7 linked regions of the Homo sapiens genome follow. The protein of the gene in region 1 purifies or fractionates together with the protein of each later gene. This does not show direct contact. Each region holds a gene or a part of one and is shown in the gene's direction. Other genes may lie near its edges. The genes, in order: EAPP, SNRNP200, ISY1, SLU7, NCDN, CDC5L and PRPF6.

Region 1 (3,500 bases):
ACCTCAGCCTCCCAAAGTGCTGGGATTACAGGCGTGAGCCACCATGCCCAGCCTGTGTGCTTGTTTTTTAATGTAGCTTTACTGTTTTTAAAAAATTCATGGACTTTTATTTTTGGTACACTTGTCACAATTAATGGACTAATATTGATACATTATTATTTTTTTTATTTTTTATTTTTTTGGAGACAGAGTCTCGCTCTGTCGCCCAGGCTGGAGTGCAGTGGCGTGATCTCGGCTCACTGCAAGCTCCGTCTCCTGGGTTCAACCGATTCTCCTGCCTCAACCTCCTGAGTAGCTGGGACTACAGGCATGTGCCACCACGCCCAGCTAATTTTTGTATTTTTTTAGTAGAGATGGGGTTTCACCATGTTGGCCAGGATGGTCTTGATCTCTTGACTTCGTGATCCGCCCGCCTCGGCCTCCCAAAGTGCTGGGATTACAGGCGTGAGCCACCGAGCCCGGCCTTGATACATTATTATTAATCAAAGTCCATAATTTTAAAACATTTCCTTAGTTTTTATGTACTGTTCTTTTTCTGTTTGAGGACCCCGTGTAGGATAGTACATCACTTTTAGTTGTCATGTCTCCCTGGGCTCTTCTTGACTCTGTCAGTTTCTTAGACTTTCCTTGTTTTCAGTGCCCTTAATTACTTTGAGGAGCACTAATCAGGTCTATGTAGGAGGCCCCTCTGTTGGAATTTGTCTGTTGTTTTTTCTCATAATTAGGATGGGATTATGGATTTTTATAAGTAAGAACATAGAAGTAGAGAGCCATTTTCCTCACATTATATCAAGAGTACATACTACCAACCTGAGTTTTGTGTGTTGGTATTGACCTCGATCACCTTGCTGACCAGTGTTAACTTTCTCTACTGTAAAGTTAGTCTTTTACCCCGCCTTACCATACCGTACTCTTTGGAAGGAAGTCACTGTGTCCAACCCAGACTTAAGGACTAGGGAGTTATACTCCACCACTGTGAGGGAAGAGCATCTTTATAGATTATTTAGAATTCTGTGTGGGGATTTGTCTGTTCTCCTCCATTTATTTATTTATTCAGTACATTTATATTAGCGTGGATTCGTGGGTATTTATACTTTGGGTTGTAATCCAGTCCTACTTTATTTTGTTGCTCAGTTTCAGCTTTGGCAGTTGGTGACTTGTTCAGTTGGCTCCTGTTTCCCTTTGTCATAACCACCTCACTGTTTTGTTTTTGTTTTCTTGATTACTTCCTTCTTTTCTGGCACTAAAAGATGCTCCAGGTTCATCTTGTGTTCCTTATTCCTAGAATTAGCCATTTCTCTGAATAGTACTGGTTCTTTTTATTGGAAAATGACACTAGAAACCAAGATCTGGTTTTAATATGTTTTTCTCCCCACTTTCTTCTTCTGTTCTAGTTACCATGGTTTGGGACCACAGAGATCACGTCAACAACAGCCTGTTCCAAATAGTGATGCTGTCTTGAATTGTCCTGCCTGCATGACCACACTTTGCCTTGATTGCCAAAGGTAATGGATGAAGGACACACACACACACACACACACACATACATATTTTGTTTAAATTAGAAACAGACTTTTTTTTTTTTGAAGTCAGAGTCTTACTCTGTTGCCCAGGCTGGAGTGCAGTGGCACAATCTCGCCTCACTGCAACCTCCGCCCCGTGGGTTCAAGCGAGTCTCCTGCCTCAGCCTCCCAGGTAGCTGGGATTACAAGCGGCCACCACCATGCCTGGCTAGTTTTTGTGTGTATCTAGATCTAGATCTAGATCTAGATAGATAGATAGATAGATAGATATAGTTTTGTTTTGTTTTGTTGAGATGAAGTCTCACTCTGTCGTACAAGCTGGAGTATAGTGGTGCAATCTTGGCTCGCTGCAACCTCTGCTGCCCAGGTTCAAGTGATTCTTCTGCCTCAGCCTCCAAGTGGCTGGGATTACAGGTGCCTGCCACCACACCCGGCTAATTTTTGTAGTTTTAGTACAGACAGGGTTTCACCATCTTGGCCAGGCTGATCTTGAACTCCTGACCTTGTGATCCACTTGCGTTGGCCTCCCAAAGTGCTGGGATTACAGCTGTGAGCTACCACGCCCGGCCTTATTTTTATATTTTTAGTAGAGACAGGGTCACACCATGTTGGCCAGGTTGGTCTTGAACTCCTGACCTCAAGTGATCTGCCCACCTCGGCCTCCCAAAGTGCTGGGATTACATGCGTGAGCCACTGTGCCCAGCCCAGAAACAGACTTTTGAGGTACTCAGGAATTCTGATAAAGTTCTGTACTTAGATTCTTGGTGCTGTGTGACTAATCTTTATACAATTAATTTTGATTATATATAGTTATATTAAATGTAGCTTTTATACTTTTAAAGTTGGGCACAGTGACTCATGCCTGTAATCCCAGTGCTATGGGAGGCTAAGGCGATCACTTGAGCCTAGGAGTTTGAGACCAGCCTAGGCAACATAGTGATACCTCATCTCTACAAAAAATAAAAAAATAAAAAATTAGCTGAGTATAGTGATGTATGCGTGTAGACCCAGCTACTCGATAGGCTGAGGTGAGAGGATGGCTTGAGCTCAAGAATTCAAGACTGCAGTGGGCTGTGACCACCACTGCACTCCAGCCTGGGCAACAAAACAAAGGTGAGATCCCCATCTCTCTCTCCAAAAAAAAAAAAAAAACGGGCTGGGCGTGGTGGCTCACGCCTGTAATCCCAGCACTTTGGGAGACCGAGGTGGGCGGATCACGAGGTCAGGAGATCGAGACCACGGTGAAACCCTGTCTCTATTAAAAATACAAAAAATTAGCCGGGCATGGTGGCGGGCGCCTGTAGTCCCAGCTACTCCGGAGGCTGAGGCAGGAGAATGGCGTGAACCCAGGAGGCGGAGCTTACAGTGAGCCGAGGTCACGCCGCTGCACTCCAGCCTGGGCAACAGAGCGAGACTCCGTCTCAAAAAAAAAAAAAAAAGGTATCTTTTCTAGTGCAAAATAGCAGCATAGAAGCAAACTGGCTCTCCTTCCCCCTGCAGAATACCAAAACCAAATATACAGCACTGAAGCTATCACCACCAGTATCCCAGATCTCAATATAAGGAGGAGACAGTTTCTAGGGCCACAGAGAAGTAAAAAAAACTTAAAGCAGACAGTAAGAGAATTGTTCTTCCATATCTGCTTATCCTTCTCCACAATCTGCCTGGCACCAAGTGAGCAGAAAAATTCCCCTGAGCTCATGATTTTTACATTAGAAAAAGTAAGATGGAAGTGTACAACCAGCTTCTTTACCTTTTTGAGTTCTCTGGTAAGAGATCTGTCCCTGCCTCAACTCATAGGAAGCACTGAGAGTGCCTGAAGGAAAAAATATCCCTGAGGATAGCCAGAGACAAAGAAGGATAGCCAGAGACAAAGCCAGGTCCCAAGTGTGAACCCCTAGCCAGCATTCCCATCCTACTGGGATATCCCTATCCTCTTTGGGACCCACCCCCCACTTCATTTGGAACAGGCAGCAC
Region 2 (3,500 bases), on another chromosome or scaffold:
GTGTCCACTGCACAATTTTTGGATTGGTTGCTGGTGGGGAGGAATTGTCACAGAAGCCTTCTGTGTTAATTGTTGTGAGAGTATAGAAAAAAACAAGTTTGCTTTATTTCAGTATTCTCAGAGTGAGGTGGCCAGAGGATGAGACCATGTGTCAGAAAGGGAGAGGGTCACAGCTGGGAGACTGAACCTTTTCTCTGGATCCTCTTGTGGGCTGTACTGGTTGGCAGAAGTGGCTTATATTTACTGAGCACTCGATTTGTGTGGAACAGCACGTGTCTTCCCCCAACCCTACATAACTCCATGAATAGGTGCTGTTAATATTCATTTTCCATTTTATAGAAGAGAGATGTGAGGCAAGAATAGTTAAGTAATTTTCCCGAGTCACAGAAGTAGTATTTGGCAGAGCCAAGATATGATCCAGATAGTTTATCTCTAGAATCCATGTTCCTAACCATTACACATGTGTGATTAGATTGGGGACCATTATGAGTCTGAGGAGCTCTGTTGAGGTGGGTGCTAGAGGAAGTGAGGACAAAGAATTACAAAAGTGTGGCAAGCTAGAGGAGGTCTGCCAAGTGACTACCACCTGGAGTGTGGCAAGCTGTTGTGGAAGCTGTGTCCTGCTGCTTGAGGCCACCTAGCTAATCTTTTTAAAAACAGACAAGTCTTCCTTTAGTTGTGGCATCAGCATTAATGAGAAAGGTCAGAGCCTAGTATGTGGCAGGTTTTGAAGAGGTGTGGCTCTTCACATCCTGCCGCCACATACACCTGGTTGAAGATGTTTTGCCTGTCGTCGTTCTCAATATTGGTTGGTTGTTTCTTGCCACCAGCCACGTGATATCCTTTGTGGGGCAGCTGATGAAGTTCTAGCTGTTCTAAAGAATGAAAAGCTGCGGGACAAGGAAAGGCGAAAGGAGATTGACCTGCTGCTGGGTCAAACAGATGATACCAGATACCATGTGCTAGTGAACCTGGGCAAAAAGATCACAGACTATGGTGGAGATAAGGAAATCCAAAATATGGGTAAGTGCGCGCTTTATGTTCTGATCATGTTCATTGGTTGTTGTTGACCCCTAAACATGCATCTTCTAGCATCATTCATTTAAAAACCTTAATGTCAGTGAGTTCCCATAATCTGTTCTGTGTTTTTTGAAGAGTTACAATTGATGGACACCAGAATCCCTAGATTCCAGCAGCTGTTCCTTACTCTGAGACCCTTTTATTGTGTGGAATATGAGAAAATGTGGGCAGAGCCTTGGGGGCTCAAGTGGTTGAGCAAGCAGAGCTGGGCTGACTCCAAGGCTGGCAGGTGGAGAAGGTCTTGGCAGGAGCAGCATAGGTGGCTCTCTCATGTTGATCATCTAAGTATCTGTATGTGTCCTTAGCACTTAGATCTTTCCTGAGGAGAGGTAGTCGGGGAGGACATTGGCTCCAGAGTGCCTTGTTTTACTAGCCATTCACTGCCCTCTTTTTCTAATCCTTCATTGTTTCAGATGACAACATTGATGAGACATACGGTGTGAATGTGCAGTTTGAGTCTGATGAGGAGGTGAGTGATAAACATACCCAGTCCATTCTTGTTTTTGACGTTGATTAAGGTAAAGGGACCCCTTCTAGTGTAAACAAGCTCTCTAGTTTAAACCAGATAAATTTTATGGTGTTGTATGGGTTTCAGACTTGGGCATTATATGTTCTTTTGCTTAAAAAAAAGTGCAGTTATCTTTTAACTTTGCTACCGCAAATTTAAACTAACAAATGTAAAGCAATATAATTTTTTTTTTTTTGAGACGGAGTCTTCTCTGTCGCCCAGGCTGGAGTGCAGTGGTGCGATCTCGGCTCACTGCAAGCTCTGCCTCCCAGGTTTCGCGCCATTCTCCTGCCTCAGCCTCCCGAGCAGCTGGGACTATAGGCGCCCGCCACCATGCCCGGCTAATTTTTTATATTTTTAGTGGAGACGGGGTTTCACCGTGTTAGCCAAGGTGGTCTTGATCTCCTGACCTCAGGTGATCCGCCCCCCGTCGGCCTCCCAAAGTGCTGGGATTACGGGTGTGAGCCACTGCGCCCGGCCACAATATAATTATTTAAAATATACCAAGTGGATCAGCAAAAAGAAAGAAAAAAGTTAAAGTACAGTGTATACTTTCATTGAGAATGTATCTGCTATGTTTTACTGCATTTTAACCTTATTACAGTATTTTCCCATTTTTCATTACTGTATCTGACTAAAAGATTGCACATTTGCCCTAGAGCACAGACATAGTTTGTACATGGTTAAGTCACTGGGGTTAATGTTTACTGTCTAATAGAATTCCTTGAATATAACTAAATAGGAATAAGTGGGGTACTTTGAGAAAATTACAGTGCCTTAGAGTTCTCAGTGAGTAGAAGTGGCTCCTGAAAGGGAAAATGGAGCCCCGGTATATATACCAAGGCTGGAAGAAGGGGTCGCACGGGGAGAGTCAGAGGACTAGGAGCCAAGACTTCTGAGTTTGAGTCCTGTATCTTGGCAGGTCATCTTGCTTCAGTTTCTCCTTCTATAAAATGAGGCCATTTCAATAGGTGATTGCTAAGCCTCTTCCTACAGTATAGTTAATAGGATTTGATGATTTTAAGTAGCAACAAACTGCTTTGCTTTTAGCAGTTCATTCATTTAACAGTGCTCATTATTGAAGTACCTGTTTTGACTGTGACACTATGCCAGGTACGCCTAATGTGCAGTGTATGAGTAAATAGAGTGGTGAGCAGGCTAAGTGCGATCTCTTCATTCCGGAGTCACCACCTGCTTTCCCAGGCATGCCTCTGTATAGCTCTTTTCTCCTTAGCTGATCACTGTTTTTGAGTGTTGATTGTGTGTGTATTAGAGAGAGGCTATGATCCAGTTGATTGCCATTGTAGCAGCCTAAGGTGAGAAATAGAAAGTAGATATATCTAATAAGTCGTGCTAAGCAGTCATTCTATGTCCACTGGAATAAGGCTGACCTTGGTTCCAATAGGCTCTCGGTTTCACCCCAAAGCCATTTCTCTACCCATTGAGCTAATTTAGGGTGACTTGAGGGAGAGGTTCTGTGGTGATGCAGGATCAGCTCCAGATCATGGTTGAGTTGGGGTCATTTCCACAGGAAGGTGATGAAGACGTATACGGGGAGGTTCGAGAAGAGGCATCTGATGATGACATGGAAGGGGACGAGGCTGTCGTGCGCTGCACCCTCTCGGCTAATGTAAGTTCAGTTTGCTCTTCCTCATTGCTACAAGGTTACTTCTGGGTGTTAGTGCTTCTTCCCCATGCCTAGGTCCTGTTACATTTATTGAGCCACTTTTTGCTGGAGTGAACTATAATAAACACTTAGTGTCTAGAGTTTCTTAAAATTTCTGTCGGTTTTCTTCCTTCCCAAAGATGTATGTTGATGAAATCTTAGTCTGGTGTGCTTCTGAACTCAATATTCCAGAGTTTTTTCCTCTGGAAAGTCCTCACAAGAAGGTGGGCTATGGATTGTCAAGTA
Region 3 (3,149 bases), on another chromosome or scaffold:
CCTTGGAGTTCTTCCATCCCCCAGTGGTACCTCAGGACCCAGGGCTGCAGACACAGGCTGGTGCTGCAAGGGCTCCTGCCCCATTCTCAGCCTTCCTTCCCTCTCCTTGTCTCATGTTGACCGGAGGGTAGGGGTCTGTCCCTGGTCTTCCTGGTAGGTTTTGTACACATATTTTGCTACTGTGTGGATCCATTTATTTTTATTGTGGAGTGTATACAACAGGTTGCGAACTGGCTGCCTGTGTCTTATTTTGACTTGCACTGCCATTTTGAGGGGAGAAGAATCAATTAGTGGCAAACATTTAAAAATGCAATTTTTTGCAGACCAAAGTATAATTTTAAAAAATGCAAATTTTCTAAAAGACACATCTCTTGAAAAATGAGATGATGTGGCCAGGCGCAGTGGCTCACGCCTGTAACCCCAGCACTTTGGGAGGCCGAGGCGGGCGGGTCACGAGGTCAAGAGATGGAGACCATCCTGGCCAACATGGTGAAACCCCATGTCTACTAAAAATACAAAAAAATTAGCTGGGCGTACTGGCATGCACCTGTAGTCCCAGCTGCTTGGGAGGCTGAGGCAGGAGAATCACTTGAACCCGAGAGGTGGAGGTTGAAGTGAGCCAAGATCGTGCCATTGCACTCCAGCCTGGCGACAGAGTGAGACTCTGTCCCAAAAAAAAAAAAAAAAAAAGATGCACGCAACCCACAAGTCAATGACCAGGTCCCTCTGTGTTGGTTGCTGCTCTGGGCTCTCCGTTAGCCCCCCTCCACCTGCTCCACTCGCTCCTGCCTGGGTGGCAGGAATTTGAGTTTGCTATTCCTGTTTTATAACCTGTTCTGCAGAAACCTATTTTTATTAAAGATTTTTATAAGAAAGGGAAACCTCCATGTCTTCAGCTTGTTCCCTGGGCCAACGGCTCTGAGGTGACAGTGGCATTAGGATGTGACCAGTCACTAAGGGGCACTGCCTTCCTGCAGGGGAGTCCCTGAAGCCCCAGCCCCAAGTGTGGCAAAGACAGGACCAGATCCCAGGAGTCTAGGTGGGAGTGAGCCGACCCACCATGGCGTCCGTGGCCACAGCTGTAGACAGGGCTCCTTGCAGTGGGCTGCACCGTGGCCTGCTGAAAGCACACAGTGGACACGAGCTGAGTCCAGAGCTTCCTCTGAACTGGGGCTTAGCTCTCCAGTGGGGAACCATGGTCAGCGGCTGTAGCCCCTGGGCAAGATGGTGCCTGGCTTCCTGCCCTCTGCAGGGTCATGGGAGTGTCTGGGAACTCAGGGTCAGGGCCAGATGGCTGTTCCTGGGGCCTGGGGCTCCAGCTCAGGCTGTTTGGGAATAGGAGGAACTCTTGGCTTGGAGAAGCCCATCACACAGCGGGAGGCCTGGGATGGTTGGTCTGCGGGGAGCAGCTCAGACTGGGGGTGGCAGAGCCGTGTGTGGCTGTGTGTGGCCAAGTCGGGAGAGTGGCCAGTGCTGGGCCCTCTCTAAGGAGCCCGAGGGCCACAAGGACTGTGGAAAAGGTCTGAGTGAGGGAGTCGGGAGCTAGTGGCTAAGGGACTTGCTTGAGGACGCTCCGTGCGGCCACAAGGAGAGGCCCAGGCAGGACCAGGTCAGGAGGAGGCTGGGGCAGAGGCCCTGGCAGGAGGTGGGTGGGCTTGGTGGGGATGGGAGTAGCCAGGGTGTAGGTGAGGATGGGGAAGGGGCCCCCCTGCCTCCTGGCTTCCCTGAGGGCTGGGCTGGCCAATCCCAGCCCTCAGTCAAGCCCGGAGGCAAATGTGTGCAGGGAGGAGAGGTGTCCAGGTTGAAGCTTTGGGAGCCCTTGGAGGCAGCAAGGCAGACTCGCCTCTGGGACCCAGCACCCAGCTTGGGCCTGCAGGTGGGGACTCAGGAGTGAATATCGTGGGGGCTTTGAGCAAGACCCTCTGGGCCCAGCCTCACCTTCCATACTTTGAAGTCAAGGAGTGGACCTGTGCTGTCTCAGTTTGCTCTGGGGTCTGGGCAGTCCTGTGGTTTGGGCAGAGGCCTCAGAGGGCCCTAGGGACAGACTGACCCAGGTCTGAGCCTCTTGGGAGCGTGCGGATGGCCGGCCTCAGACAGGCCTGGTTGTGGGTTTGTCTTCCAAGGGGCACACGCGCACTCTGGTGCTTCCTGGCATTCAGAAGAGAATGGGGAATCCAGACATCAGGCCTTCCTTCTCCCTGGGAAGGATGGCAGGTGCTTGGAGCCAGGCCTGTCTTGAGAGCCAGGGCTCTGGGTCTTCCTCCTCCAGTGCCCTGTTCCACGCCTTCAGTGCACAAAGCACTCCCCTCCTGGGATCTCTTCAGGGATCCCCGGGATGCAAACTGGCCAGGGATTAGAATTCCACATTTGAGCAAACAGACTGAGAGTGGAGAAGCACCCAGCTGGACATCCTCTAGGTGTTCCTGGCAGAGGCCCTTGCTACTTGTCTGTGCCCAAAGGCCCTAGAGGGTCCTAGATGTGGGACAAGGTCTCAGCAGGGCTCCAGTCCCAGGCCTGGAAACAGCTGGGGGTGGGGGAAGCTGGCTGGGTGGGTGTGGTTATCTTTTCCCAGCTTGTGGCTCCGAGGTGACAGAACCAATCTCAGGAGGCTTTGTTTGGTTAATAAAATCTACTGAATGGTTTATTTTAGCTTTGGCTCTGCCTGTGGTTTCCCGAAAAGCTACTTTTTCATAGTCATGTTTCCATCAACTTCCTTCTTCCCTCACACTGCCTGTCCTCCAGCGTCTAAAACACACCACCTCCCTCCTGTTTTGCTTTAAGACTGGTCACAGCATCCCCACCCAGGCCTCCTGGACCTCCTCCCGCTGCATCCCCAACTGGCTGACCCCATCTGCCCTTGGGCAGTTTATAAACAAGGAAGAAATGAAAACCTTTCTCCTCTTGCCCTGCACTTGCTCTGCAGTGCTGCGCATGCACACCCCATTCCCTGAAACACTGGCAGGATCTGGACCCTAGCTGGGGCTCCTCACCCTGCTCACTGTGCAGCACTGAAAGCAGGAACCCGCCTGGATGGACATCAGGCCTGGCCCAGCACCCAGCTGACTAGCAAGCAGAGGGATCCAGGGGGACGGGCAGCGGCACCCAGCTCCTTCTGGCATCTCACTTGCTGCCCACCTGCTCCACCAGAA
Region 4 (3,500 bases), on another chromosome or scaffold:
TCACTACAAAAAATACGAAAAAATTAGCCGGGCATGGTGGCGGGCACCTGTAATCGAGCTACTCGGGAGACTGAGGCAGGAGAATCGCTTGAACCTGGGAGGCGGAGGTTGCAGTGAGCTGAGATCATGCCACTGCACTCCAGCCTGGGCAACAGAGCGAGACTCTGTCTCTAAAAAAAAAAGAAAAAGAAAAACCAAGAGAATGTAGTGTCAGGGAAGTCAAGACATAATATATAAAAAGGGAAGGAACAGAGCTGAAAAATGTCCATTGGATTTAGCACAATGGTCCTTGATGACTTAATGATGTAACTCTTTTCTTTAGAATGGTAGGGAATGGAGGGCTAAGTTAGAGTGAGTGAGGATGAAAATAGAAGGTGAGGAAATGGAGGCAGTGAATATAGATAACTCTTGAGATATTCATTCTTGAAGGGGTACAGAGATAGGACCCTCTTTTCTCTCATTAAGAGTTACTGTGTTAGAAAAGTTTGAGACATACACAGAAAGAGGGATTAAGGATGGATATGAGAAAAGAGTCCTGTGAAATTTTAAATACACGTGTGTGTCTCTCTCCATTTGTAAATTGGAGTTGAGAGAGAAACAGTGCTAACAGTATGTAGAGACCTTGAGGAGGGGGAAGAGACCCTTCCTTACACATAATATAGGAGAAAAAAAAACATATGAAACAGTATATATTATTAGGATGTATTTTTGGTAGTTTGAGTGAATTCATGAAGGCCTACTTTTTACTGTAAGTTTCACTTCTTTTCCTAGAGGAGGCCAGATAACCATGTCAGCCACAGTTGTAGATGCAGTTAATGCTGCACCCCTATCGGGGTCCAAAGAAATGAGTTTGGAAGAACCAAAGAAGATGACCAGAGAGGACTGGAGAAAGAAGAAGGAGCTAGAAGAACAGCGAAAATTGGGCAATGCTCCTGCAGAAGTTGATGAAGAAGGAAAGTAAGTACTTAATTTTTTGTATGATCCATTCATTCAGAATTCAAATTCATGTCTACTTAGTTTATTAATTTTTCATCCTTTGAGAGGAACCTCTCTTCATTTATGTCATTTTTGTTTTTTATTTTATCAAACTCATATGCATATGGTTTAATAATGAAATTATGTTGAAGGGCTTATAATGAATAGCAACAGTCCTTTTTTACCGTTCCCACCCCTGGCCTGCTCTACAGAAGTGACTGCTATGAAATCTTTCTATTTTGAGTTTTTCTGGTTGTTACCGTCACATCTCTAGATAATAATACCTACACAATTATTTTAATTAATTGACTATAGACATTATTTGAACCAAAACTTCTTGTGATAGAAGATTTAGATTACTAACACACATCTCTATTTTCCTTCCTCTCTTGTCCCCCTTCAGTTATATCACTATTCTTAGTTTCTTAGTTGGAAATATTTTCACTCTAAAATAAATTACTTCTTTATTTTTAATTATTCTTTATTATAGTATAGAGATAGCAACCTTGTTCTCTTCCCCCTACCACTGCAATATTTCTGTTCTTAGATTTTGTATAAGCTACCTTTGTAATTGTAATACTGATTATTTTCCAATTTTATCCTTAAATTTTTTTTTTTTTTACTTTAATTACAGAGACATCAACCCCCATATTCCTCAGTATATTTCTTCAGTGCCATGGTATATTGATCCTTCAAAAAGACCTACTTTAAAACACCAGAGACCACAACCAGAAAAACAAAAGCAGTTCAGCTCATCTGGAGAATGGTACAAGAGGGGTGTAAAAGAGGTATGTAGGCAACCTGTATACATCTTCATGGATATGGAGAGTTTAAGAACTTAATGTAAGAATTTTTAATGCAATACTATTTAAAGTAGAAACAGATAATAAAACCCTTTATCTGGTATTGAAATTCACAGTGCATTACTATTTTATCTTTGTGTTTCTTATATAAATTTTACACTCCTGAACTCTTTAAAGTTTCACATTTATAAATGTGTGGAGACTCTAACTTATTTTCCTTTTAACAAAGAAATCATTTCCCTAGACAAAATAGTAATGAGAGTCAAAGTTATTTCTAACTTACGTGGTTAAGACATTTTTGTTTTTCTTTATATATATTTATAGAATTCCATAATTACTAAGTACCGCAAAGGAGCATGTGAAAATTGTGGGGCCATGACACACAAAAAGAAAGACTGCTTTGAGGTAAGTTCACCTTTGAAAATTTTGAAAACCGTTGTCAGAGTCTTTCTTTTTTCTTTGTCAGAGAGCTAACTTCTCTTTTTCTGAAATCACCTATATTTAGGTACAAGTTAAATAAAAATTAGTTTCAGTGGAATTGGTTCAACACCAACAAAATTTTCTACTGTAAGACTAACTGTAAATTGAATAGATCGTAAAGTGCCCACTCTGTAAAAGTTGTATGAAGTTTTCCTTTGGGCCATAAAAACTTAGGAAAAGATTAAATCTTACTCTGTTTTTAGAGACCTAGGCGAGTTGGAGCCAAATTTACAGGTACTAATATAGCTCCAGATGAACATGTCCAGCCTCAACTGATGTTTGACTATGATGGGAAGAGGGATCGGTGGAATGGCTACAATCCAGAAGAACACATGAAAATTGTTGAAGAGTATGCCAAAGTTGATTTGGTGAGCAAAATTCCCTGCTTTCCTGGGGTTTTTAAAGAATCGTCCTTTTGCTGTATCTCTAGCAGCTCTACTTTTCAAATCTTGAAGCACTTTAAAAATGGTAGCATTTTTATAATAGTAGTACTACTGTATAGGCTACCTTTATAATTGTAATATTGAGTAAAGGAAATAGTGTGCTAGCCATACTTGCCAGCAGTTTCTTCTTATTTGATTCTTATATTGGTCCTTTACTCCCTGACTTAGGTAGCAAAAGATATTGGAAGCATGAAGACAGATTAGTGTCCAAAGCTTTTGGTTTTGTGAGGTTAGAAATGTATGGCCCCAAGCTATAGCTTGCCCATGAACCTATTTTATAGTTGCCTCCCATAGCATTTGGGAGTAGTAGAAAGGGAATGGATAATTTGTTTCAGAAAATTTTATTTTATTTTAACCCAACTTCAGTTTTTACTGTTATGATTTGACCTATTCACCCTTATTCCTTTGAAGTCATAGTCACACTGCCTTTTTTTTTTAATTAGAGGTATCATTTTAAAATTATAAGATTTCATATAAAAATCTGGATTTCATCTTTTCTTGAATATTGTAATATATGGTAACCCCACGCCTGCCTGGTAAGAGTCAGTCATCTAGAGTTCTGTGGCAACTGCTTGTTTTTGTCAGGGCTTGCTCCCTGCAATTTACTACTGATGCCATTTGGCTCAGTTTACATTAATGCCTGGTTCAAACACTGTGTAACTCCTGCTCTTTATAGAGTAATAGGTCTAGGGCTACAAGGAATCCCAAAGAGATAGGTTTGTTCAGTGACCTTTTCTGAAATAAATTAATTTAAAGTTATTCATTTTAAATATATAAAAATTTAGGTGGTGACTTGAAT
Region 5 (3,240 bases), on another chromosome or scaffold:
CGACCTGCTGGCCGTGTTGCGGGGCCTCAGTGAGGATTTCCAGAAAGCTGAGGATGCCAGCAAGTTTGAGCTCTGCCAGCTGCTGCCCCTCTTTTTGCCCCCGACAACCGTGCCCCCTGAATGCTACCGGGATCTGCAGGCCGGGCTGGCACGCATCCTGGGAAGCAAGCTGAGCTCCTGGCAGCGCAACCCTGCACTGAAGCTGGCAGCCCGCCTGGCACACGCCTGCGGCTCCGACTGGATCCCGGCGGGCAGCTCCGGGAGCAAGTTCCTGGCCCTGCTGGTGAATCTGGCGTGCGTGGAAGTGCGGCTGGCACTGGAGGAGACGGGCACGGAGGTGAAAGAGGATGTGGTGACCGCCTGCTATGCCCTCATGGAGTTGGGGATCCAGGAATGCACTCGCTGTGAGCAGTCACTGCTTAAGGAGCCACAGAAGGTGCAGCTCGTGAGCGTCATGAAGGAGGCCATAGGGGCTGTTATCCACTACCTGCTGCAGGTGAGGGTGCAGTGACCCACAGAGGGGGCCCAGTATGGGGGGAGCCAGTGCTGGAGCTGGGAGGCAAGGGGGAGGAGAATAATGGGGAGACAGCGAAGCTGCATGTCCACACAAGCTGATACTGTAGCCAGCACTCCAGGGAGTAGTGTGCGGCCCAACCTCCCTCTCTCTCCCTCCCTCCACACAAGCACCATACCACACACCATATGTGCACTCACATCACAGTACACACACACGCACACACACACAACACAGTAACCTCCCACTCAAACGCTCCCCCCAATACACACACACTACACGCCACACACCTCTCCCCAACACATGCACACAAGATTGAAGCAGTCTGTTCTGCTCACTCCATAGCATTGTTTTATACACGCACACACCCGAACTTCTAATGGTGCAGGGAAGAGAAGCAGGGCTGCCTGGTTCCTGGCCTCTATAGAGGTCTGGCTAGATCAATTCGCCTGCCTCCCCTACATCCCCTCCTGCCTCCCCGCCTGAGAGGCCAGCTGTCCTGTCCCACAGGGATTCAGTCATGACTCTGGTCTCTTTAATGGCCTGCTCCAGCCACCGAGCTCACCAGCCATATATTCCATGCACCACGCTAAGCTCATGTCTTTTTTCTGACTTAGCACAAAAGAGAGCATCCCCTCACTCCCACCATTGGGAGCAGTTACACAGTAGCCAGGAACCTGCCCTCCCACCCCAGGTCAGAGCTGCTGTAAAGGGTGTTTAACTTAGCTTTTGACCTATGAATTTCCTTCTAGCCTTGAGACACTCCAGAGGTAGGGAGTTAGGGAGATGTGACTGGAGCCTCAGCGAGTACGGGGGCATGTCACTCAATTCACTCAGGCCCAGTTCACTCAGCAGACGTGTGTGGAGGGCCTGGCTCACTCTGTGCCAGTCCCTTGTGTGCGTCCCTACCACATGCTAGGTGCTGGGTTCATGGGACAGAATAAAGGTTGGGGCCTGCCTTTGAAAGGCTCACAGGCCAGAATTTCCTTCTAGTTGTATTATTTCTAGCTGGCTGGCCTCTGGCAAGGCAGGGAGGGTCCCTGGTCCTGCTCCATCTCAAGGGGGTCCTGTGGCAACAGGTGGGGTCAGAGAAGCAGAAGGAGCCCTTTGTGTTTGCCTCGGTGCGGATCCTGGGTGCCTGGCTGGCCGAGGAGACCTCATCCTTGCGTAAGGAGGTGTGCCAGCTGCTGCCCTTCCTCGTCCGCTATGCCAAGACCCTCTACGAGGAGGCCGAGGAGGCCAATGACCTTTCCCAGCAGGTGGCCAACCTGGCCATCTCCCCCACCACCCCAGGGCCCACCTGGCCAGGAGACGCTCTCCGGTGAGTCTGTAGTTACAGTCTGTCCAGCTAGATCATTCTACCGAAAAGCGTTAACACAAGGACACCCCTCCCCACAAACTGAGCTGTGCCAGGCTTCCTGATTGGGCCATGAGATATCCCTTAGGGTTATTTCTGTTTTGGGGGGCTTGTTCCCACAGGACTCCTCGGCTGCCAGGTGTCACTTGCCAACCCCAGATTTCTCAGTTAAAAGAGAACTTATACTTATTGAGCACCTACTACGAGCCAGGTATTTTGCTATACCCTTTACCAAAATGATCTCATTTGGTCCACGTGGTAAATATAACAGAAGTCTCATTCACATATGAAAGATTAGGAAACTGAGGCTCATAGAGATTAAAGTCACTTGCCCACAGTCACACTTTGTGGCAGAGCCCAAGTTTGGTCCTGGGTTGTGCGACTCTGAAGCTTGTACTTTTTCTGTGGTACCTGCGAGGATGTGTCCTTCTCCCCTACTTCCATTTCTCTTAGGCAAGGTGCCCTAAAAAGGGAATCTATGTGCCTTCATCTCTCCCAATCCCACACACGTCTGTCCCTTCCACATCCCCAGGCTCCTCCTGCCTGGCTGGTGCCACCTGACCGTTGAAGATGGGCCCCGGGAGATCCTGATCAAGGAAGGGGCCCCCTCGCTTCTGTGCAAGTATTTCCTGCAGCAGTGGGAACTCACATCCCCTGGCCACGACACCTCGGTGCTGCCTGACAGCGTGGAGATTGGCCTGCAGACCTGCTGCCACATCTTCCTCAACCTCGTGGTCACCGCACCGGGGCTGATCAAGTGAGGGGCTCGGGAGAGGTGGGGGAGGAGGCCGGAGGAGGCAAAGGAGGCTGCCCAGTTGCCTCAATTCTCAGTCTCCTACTTTGCCCCCCATGCCCATGGATTTGTTAGTGGTAGCATGGGGGTCTCAGAGTAGACATAGCCAGCCCCGCACAAGGATTCGGCATGCTGGAACCCCCAGGTACTGTCTCAGCATGTCTGCTTGTTCCAATCTCTGCCCCCCAGATGCTATGTTTGGGGCCCAAAGTTAATCACCCTACTGCCTAATTTCTTGCCAAGGGCTTGATTTGGCTGTACTAGACCCCCACCTACCTCCATCCTTCCCCCCTTTCTTTTCCAGGCGTGACGCCTGCTTCACATCTCTAATGAACACCCTCATGACGTCGCTACCAGCACTAGTGCAGCAACAGGGAAGGCTGCTTCTGGCTGCTAATGTGGCCACCCTGGGGCTCCTCATGGCCCGGCTCCTTAGCACCTCTCCAGGTAAGAACTGGGGATCCAGTCCTGATGGGTGAGGACAGAAGACCTGGGTGGACCTCCTGTGTTTGGGGCAAAAGTCACCATTTTTAGAAGATGGTTTTGCAGCATTTTCTAAGCAAGAGGAAATCTTTG
Region 6 (3,500 bases), on another chromosome or scaffold:
ATAACCCCTTGAGCCCAGAAGTTGGAGGCCAGCCTGGGCAGCATAACGAGACCCTGTCTTTAAAACTGAGTAGTGTAATTCTACTGAGTAGATTTTTCAGAGGCTAGAGGTGAGCCCTTGAAGATCCTGTTTCTCATTCCTATTCCATGGAGAGAGACATCAAGTCAGAATATTGGACCTCAGTCCTCCTATTAATTACTTATTTGACTATAGGCAAGTTATTTATTCTGTGTGAGAAGGCAACCTGTGAGACGGTGATGGAGACTTAACAGTGATTCTGGGAGGCATTGAATCAGGAATTCCACAATAGAAAGTATATGGAATCAACCTAAGTGTCCATTAATGGGTGAATGGATAAAGAAAATGTGGACTGGGCATGGTGGCTCACGCCTGTAATCCCAGCACGTTGGGAGGCTGAGGTGGGCAGATCACTTGAGCCCAGGAGTTCAAGATCAGCCTGGCCAACATGGTGAAACCCTGCCTCTATAAAAAAATACAAAAATTAGCCAGGTGTGGTGGCGCATGCCTGTAGATCCAGCTACTGGGGAGGCTGAGGTGGGAGAATCACTTGAGCCCGGGAGGCTGGGTTTGCCATGAGCTGAGATCAAGCACTGCACTCCAGCCTGGGCAACAGAGCAGGACCCTGTCTCAAAAAAAAAAAAAAAAAAAAAAAAAAAAAATGGTATACACACACACACACACACACACACACACGAATACTATTTGGTCATAAAAAGCAATGAAATCATGTCATTTGCAGCAACATGGATGGCAGTAGAAGTCATTATGTTCAGTGAAATAAGCCAGGCACAGAGAGACAAATACTGCATATTCTTCCTCATATGTGGGAGCTAAAAGCGTTGATCTCATGGAGTTAGAATAGAGTGATAGATGCCAGAGGCTGGGTATGGTGTGTGGGTGGGAGAGCGGGATTAAGAGAGGTTGGTTAATGGGTACAAACGTAGATGGAAAGAAATAAGTTATAATGTTTGATAGCAGAATAGGGTGACTATAGTTAGCAACAGTGTATTACATATTTCAAAGTAGCTGGAAGAGAGGTCTGAAATAAATACTCAAGGTGATGGGTACCCCAGATATACTGACTTGATCATTACACATTCTATGCATGTAACAAACTCTCACATGTACCCTATAAATATGTAAAGTATGATGTATCAGTTAACAGAATCAGGAATTGGATTTTCAACCCGTGTGTGCCACCTATTAGCTGTTTGACCTTAGACAAGTCATAAAATCTCTCTGAGCTTTGATTCCCTTTCTTGCGAGATGGGGAATACTAATACCTGCTTTACCTTAGCAGGGTTGTTGTGAAGCACTCAGTGAATATTTGTTAAGTTTCTAAAATGTAAAGTTTGAACATAGTGGTTCCCAAAGGCAGGCTGTGGCTAGGCTGGCTGCATCATTATCACAGGGGGAGCATTTAAAAATAGAAATATCAGGGCTTCTCCTGTATATACTGAGTCAGTACATCTGGGGTGGTGTGGGAGGCACGGGAAGAGCAGTGATCTTGGAATCTGAGTATTTTACAAGTTCCCATGTGATTTAGTTGGACAGCCTTGCATAGGAATTGTTCTAAGGCATCAATAGTGGCATGTATTATTCCATTCTATAGAGCCACGAAAAATGTATTGGATGAGAGAAATTGTTCTGAGGGGAAAAAAAAGTATCTAATGATAGTTGTTCTCTCATAATTAAATAGTTTTTACCCTATTTCACAATTTGTGCTGTGCCAGTTAGTTGATAATAATGAAGGATACAATAATTGTAGCCACTGTTTAATGAATGCTTGCGAGATGCTTTACATATTTCGTTTTACTTAGCCCTTCTCAAAATCCTTGTGAAATAGGAATTGTTATTCGAATTTTATAGGGAAACCATGCTTAGGGAGGGTAAGTAAGTGACTAAGGTCACATAGCTAGCAAGTGGTGGGCCTGGTTTTTAACCTAGGTTCTTTGACTTCAAAACTCAAGCTGTTTCCATTATGCTACACCATAAAATCAGTATTTTTATGTTTTTTTCTCATTTTGAGCAATAGAGTGTCTCTTACATACCTTGCTTCTAGAGTATGTAAGAACTAAGAAAATACTTAGTTTTTCTTCTTTTAATTTTTGCAGATGAACTTGAGATGCTTTCTGAAGCCAGAGCCCGCTTGGCTAATACTCAGGGAAAGAAGGCCAAGAGGAAAGCAAGAGAGAAACAATTGGAAGAAGCAAGGTATGTGTGGATATAGGAATAAAAAGCAAAGTGTTTTTCTCACATAACAATCAACACAGAATACTTCTGTGACCAGATATGTGGTTTTTTTTTTTTTTTCCCCTCTCCACCAGCAATCAGGCAATCAATTCTGCAGTGGATAGCTGGGTGTCCTCTAATTCAGTTAACTCTAATACTGTCTACCTGGAGATAGCTCCAGATCTTACAGGTTGAGGACTTAGTCCCACAAGACTGAACCCCAGTTTTGATGCTGACCCTAAACCCCAGGTTATTTTGCTTGTGTTTCTGACCAGCGAGCTGGGTTCCACTGCCCCTTCCTTGGGTTCCATTCATCTGCTAGAGGACTCACAGAACTCAGGGAAACACCCACATTTACAAAGGATATTTTAAAGGATACAAATCAACGGCCCCATGAAGAGATACACAGGGTGAAGCCTGGAAGGGTCCTGAGTGCAGGTGCTTATGTCCCATTGAAGTTGGGATATGCCACCCTCCCAGCCAGTGGGTGTGTTCTTGTTCACCTTTTCGGAAGCCCCCATGTATTTGGCTGCCCACAAGTTCTCCAGACTCTGTCCTTTTGGGTTTTTATGGAGGCTTCATTAAATAGGCAAGATTGATTACATCATTGGCCATTGCTTATCAACTCGACCTTCAGCCCTTCTCCCCTCCCCTGAGGTTGGGGGTTGTGGCTGAAAGTCCCAAGCCCTCTAATCCTGCCGTGGTCTTTCTGGTGACTGCCAGCTATCAGTCAACTCATTAACATGCAGAAAGACACTTTTCACTTGGAAGAGTCCCAGGATTTTAGGAGTTGCATTGTTGGAAACGGATGAAGACCAAATACATTATTTCACAATGTGTGCTTGTCTCCATTCATAGTTCAATAATTAGTCTAGGCATCCTTAGGACCAATAAAACTGCATGATTTATTAACCCGTTGGGTGAATAATAATTGGAATTGTCCAGTTCCTATTTCGCTAGTATTCTTTACCTTCTTTATTTCTCTGAAACTATCTTGTATTTTTTTCCCCCAACCATTTCAGAATATTTATAGAAAACCATATTTAAAAAAAATTGAAGCTATGGCAGAGGTAATGCCCAGTTTATCCAGTATGTTGAGTGTGTTCTGTTGGCATATGAGAGCTTCATTTGTTGTAGCTATTTTGGAGTCAGATGACTGTAGGACACACAAGATTATGTGTCTTTTGTATGACTGCCAATTAGTTACTTTCCTTGATTGGTATTGGGAAGGCACTGGCTGTGAAACA
Region 7 (3,500 bases), on another chromosome or scaffold:
GTGGGTGTTACTCATTTTCTCTCCTGAGAAGGCACCAGAGCCACACGTTGATTGAACTCTTTCCTGCTGCTGACGAGGCTGTGCCTTCTGCTCCCGCGATGCAGCGTGTGCCGTCAGCTCAGGTCAGATAACGACAGACGGTGTGCCTACCAGGCAACCTGATTCCATCCAGGGATTCCTGCCAGGGTAGAGCTTTTGTGGGTAGTTTGTTTATTTTTATTACTGTGGATTCATAAAAGGAGCACTGTTTCTCCTGTCACTGGAAGTGTGTAGTAGATGCTGCTCTTGAACTGGGTCCAGAACGAGTGCTAGTCAGGGGGCTGTTCTGAAGCTAATCTGTGCAGGTGGCTTCTTTTTTTTCATTTTTTGTTTTTTTTTTCTGGTTTTTTTTTTTTTTTTTTTTTTGAGATGGAGTCTCGCCCTGTCGCCCAGGCTGGAGTGCAGTGGCGTGATCTCGGCTCACTGCAAGCTCCGCCTCCCGGGTTCACACCATTCTCCTGCCTCAGCCTCCTGAGTAGCTGGGACTACAGGCGCCTGCCACCACGCCTGGCTAATTTCTTTTTGTATTTTTAGTAGAGATGGGGTTTCACTGTGTTATCCAGGATGGTCTCGATCTCTTGGCCTTGTGATCTGCCTGCCTCGGCCTCCCAAAGTGCTGGGATTCCAGGCGTGAGCCACTGCACCTGGCCTATGCAGGTGGCTTCTATCCATTTTTTTTTTTTTAGACAGAGTCTCGCTTTGTCGCCCAGGCTGGAGTACAGGGGCACGATCTTGGCTCACTGCAGCCTCTGCCTCCCGGGTTCAAGTGATTCTCCTGCCTCAGCCTCCCGAGTAGCCGGGATTACAGGTGTGCGCCTCCATGCCTGGCCAATTTTTGTATTTTTAGTAGAGATGGGGTTTCCCCATGTTGGCCGGGCTGGTCTCAAACTCCTGACCACAAGTGATCCTCCTGCCTTGGCCTCCCAAAGTGCAGGGATTACAGGCGTGAGCCCCTGTGCCTGGCCTTTTCTTTTCTTTTTTTTTTTTTTTTGAGATGGAGTCTCACTTTGTCCCCCAGGCTGGAGTGCAATGGCACCATCTTGGCTCACTGCAACCTCCGCCTCCTGGGTTTAAGCAATCCTCTTGCCTCAGCCTTCTGAGGAGCTGGGACTACAGGCACCTGCCACCACGCCTGCTTAATTTTTGTATTTTTAGTAGAGACGGGGTTTCACTGTGTTGACCAGGCTGGTCTTGAACTTCTCACCTCAAGTGATCCACCCACCTCGACCTCCCAAAGTGCTGGGATTACAGGCGTGAGCCACTGTGCCCGGCCAGATTTTTTTTTTTTTTTTGAGACAGCGTCTTGCTCTGTCACCCAGGCTGGAGTGCAGTGGCACGATCTTGGCTCACTGCAGCCACCACCTCCCAGGCTCAGGCGATCCTCCCAGCTTAGCCTCCCAAGTAGCTGGGAGTATAGGTCCCACCCCCATGCCCAGCTATTTTTAATTTTTGGTAGAGATGGGATCTTGCTGTGTTGTCCAAGCTTGTCTCAAACTCCCATCCTCAAGTGATCCTCCTGCCTTGATCTCCCAGAGAGCTGGGATTACAGGCATCAGCCGTCGCATCCAGCCTATTCTTCCTGAATTTATAGCCTAGGAAAAATAAAGTGTATTTTATGGAATCAAGGGCAGTTTTCAGTGAGAGCTTTCCAGCTCTTGTTTTTCCAAATGTCTTTAAGCGAAATATCCCATTGAGGCTTCTGTGCTGATAGGACCGTGCAGATGAGGGCTCTTTGGTAGAAAGCCCCTTATCAAATATAGTTTCATTCACTTACTGTCTACGTCTGTTAGAAGACAGGTGAAGGCTGCTTGCCTGTGATGCATGTTCCCCCGACCCTGTGCACTCACATGTGAACGTGCTTTCCTCTGTCGAGGCTGGTTTCTTGACCGCAGCCCAGCTGCTCAGTGAATGCTCAGAGACAGCCTCTTTTATTTTTTTTTATTGAGACAGAGTCTCGCTCTGTCGCCCAGCCTGGAGTGCAGTGGCACGACCTCGGCTCTCTGCAAGCTCCGCCTCCCAGGTTCACGCCATTCTCCTGCCTCAGCCCCCCAAGTAGCTGGGACTACAGGCGCCCGCCACCAGGCCTGGCTAATTTTTTTTTGTATTTTTATTAGAGATGGGGTTTCACCATGTTAGCCAGGATGGTCTTGATCTCCTGACCTCATGATCCACCCGCCTCGGCCTCTCAAAGTGCTGGGATTACAGGCGTGAGCCACCGCGCCCGGCCAGAGACAGCGTCTTATAATGAGGTGGCCAGGAACAGAAAGTTAGCACCTGTCTGGGTTTGTAGAAATCAGTTTATCTTTTTTCAGCTAGGAAGAAATAGTTCTTTGATGAAGAGCCCATGAAAGTCTGGGTAATTAGTATTGTTTACTTAGAAAAGCTCTATTGAATTCTTCCTGCCACAGTTTGATGAATGATCATGAATGTCTTTGTGGCCACTCCCTGCTCACCACCAGATTGTCTGGGTTCATTTCCAGTTGGTTTGGATTTGGAGATGGGAGTATGCTGTTGGAGGCGGGGGCCTTCGGGGAGTGTTGAGGGACTGTGTTTCCACGGCTGTTCTCTCAGGGAGTGGCCTCCTGGCTGTGCTCTCTCAGGCAGAGAAGCTGGGCTAAGGTGGAATGAACCCAGGATCTCCAGGATGGCCTTTGCCGCTGCCCTAATACTGGTCCTGGCCTGCCCTTTCCCAAGAGTGTTTCCAAAAACTGTATTCTTTTCCTGGGGTGAAGCCCAGCACTGCTTCATTTGGTTATTAGCAAACACTTACACGTTGCTTGAAGGGTCTGGTTTTTGAAATTAAGATGACAGCTACTTCCACTGGTGACTTAGGACACCTGCCAGCCAGGGAGCCTGGCAGTGCATGGTCTCTGTGAGCTCTGGGTCGCTGTTGGGCTGAGCTGACACCTTAGTCCTTTGTTGGGAGAATGGGCGTTTTGGGTGCTGATCTTGAGACCTGAGGAGGCTGAGTAACCTTAGGCATGGTGCTTGGCCTCTGAGCTTCCATGTCTTCCTCTGTAAAAGGGAAGAGGGCTTTCAGGATTGGGGAGGGTGCAGCATGTGAGCTTCCTGGCCAGGGTGGGGTGTCCCACGTGCAGAGTCCCCTGGGGAGGCCCGACTGGCAGCTCCCCTACAATAATGCACTCACATGCTGTGTACTCCGCTAGTTAATGCAGATGTGTGGAAGTGGAGTTATTTTACACTAACGCCATATGCTCTGGCCTGTGAAGCGTGGCATCCTTCAGTGGCCGTCGCCAGCGTGTCCCTCTGGGGGCACAGGAATGGCACAGTTCAGGTTGAGGGTCTTCCCTGCAGTCACGTGACCCCCGGAGAGCATGTTGGCCTCTGCACGGTCACGTCTTCATGGCTGTGTCTAGCATTCAGAATACTCTTCTGTTCTAGGCCAACTTCAGGGGTGTGTGCTTCCTCCACTTCTGCTCATAAAGTCACACTCCTTGAAG

Evidence for each region.
Region 2: the proteins of EAPP (region 1) and SNRNP200 purify together in Homo sapiens (affinity purification with mass spectrometry; 4 studies listed by BioGRID and IntAct, with this or other methods). This does not show direct contact.
Region 3: the proteins of EAPP (region 1) and ISY1 purify together in Homo sapiens (affinity purification with mass spectrometry, with the first as the bait; one large-scale study listed by BioGRID). This does not show direct contact.
Region 4: the proteins of EAPP (region 1) and SLU7 purify together in Homo sapiens (affinity purification with mass spectrometry, with the first as the bait; one large-scale study listed by BioGRID). This does not show direct contact.
Region 5: the proteins of EAPP (region 1) and NCDN purify together in Homo sapiens (affinity purification with mass spectrometry; 2 studies listed by BioGRID and IntAct, with this or other methods). This does not show direct contact.
Region 6: the proteins of EAPP (region 1) and CDC5L purify together in Homo sapiens (affinity purification with mass spectrometry, with the first as the bait; 2 studies listed by BioGRID). This does not show direct contact.
Region 7: the proteins of EAPP (region 1) and PRPF6 purify together in Homo sapiens (affinity purification with mass spectrometry; 3 studies listed by BioGRID and IntAct, with this or other methods). This does not show direct contact.

Annotation. Positions count from the first base shown.
Region 1 is NC_000014.9:34,522,702-34,526,201, reverse strand, and holds part of EAPP (E2F-associated phosphoprotein), read left to right. Parts: intron 1-1,394; coding exon 1,395-1,505; intron 1,506-3,500. UniProt on the Homo sapiens protein: May play an important role in the fine-tuning of both major E2F1 activities, the regulation of the cell-cycle and the induction of apoptosis. Promotes S-phase entry, and inhibits p14(ARP) expression.
Region 2 is NC_000002.12:96,299,047-96,302,546, reverse strand, and holds part of SNRNP200 (U5 small nuclear ribonucleoprotein 200 kDa helicase), read left to right. Parts: intron 1-830; coding exon 831-1,023; intron 1,024-1,493; coding exon 1,494-1,549; intron 1,550-3,119; coding exon 3,120-3,218; intron 3,219-3,500. UniProt on the Homo sapiens protein: Catalyzes the ATP-dependent unwinding of U4/U6 RNA duplices, an essential step in the assembly of a catalytically active spliceosome. Plays a role in pre-mRNA splicing as a core component of precatalytic, catalytic and postcatalytic spliceosomal complexes.
Region 3 is NC_000003.12:129,126,915-129,130,063, reverse strand, and holds the end of ISY1 (pre-mRNA-splicing factor ISY1 homolog), read left to right. Parts: 3' UTR 1-2,649; downstream 2,650-3,149. UniProt on the Homo sapiens protein: Component of the spliceosome C complex required for the selective processing of microRNAs during embryonic stem cell differentiation. Required for the biogenesis of all miRNAs from the pri-miR-17-92 primary transcript except miR-92a.
Region 4 is NC_000005.10:160,412,582-160,416,081, reverse strand, and holds part of SLU7 (pre-mRNA-splicing factor SLU7), read left to right. Parts: intron 1-771; coding exon of another isoform or gene 772-787; coding exon 788-957; intron 958-1,609; coding exon 1,610-1,763; intron 1,764-2,102; coding exon 2,103-2,183; intron 2,184-2,461; coding exon 2,462-2,626; intron 2,627-3,500. UniProt on the Homo sapiens protein: Required for pre-mRNA splicing as component of the spliceosome. Participates in the second catalytic step of pre-mRNA splicing, when the free hydroxyl group of exon I attacks the 3'-splice site to generate spliced mRNA and the excised lariat intron.
Region 5 is NC_000001.11:35,560,799-35,564,038, forward strand, and holds part of NCDN (neurochondrin), read left to right. Parts: coding exon 1-496; intron 497-1,593; coding exon 1,594-1,835; intron 1,836-2,403; coding exon 2,404-2,628; intron 2,629-2,968; coding exon 2,969-3,111; intron 3,112-3,240. UniProt on the Homo sapiens protein: Probably involved in signal transduction in the nervous system, via increasing cell surface localization of GRM5/mGluR5 and positively regulating its signaling. Required for the spatial learning process.
Region 6 is NC_000006.12:44,394,206-44,397,705, forward strand, and holds part of CDC5L (cell division cycle 5-like protein), read left to right. Parts: intron 1-2,135; coding exon 2,136-2,235; intron 2,236-3,500.
Region 7 is NC_000020.11:64,001,632-64,005,131, forward strand, and holds part of PRPF6 (pre-mRNA-processing factor 6), read left to right. Parts: intron 1-3,500. UniProt on the Homo sapiens protein: Involved in pre-mRNA splicing as component of the U4/U6-U5 tri-snRNP complex, one of the building blocks of the spliceosome.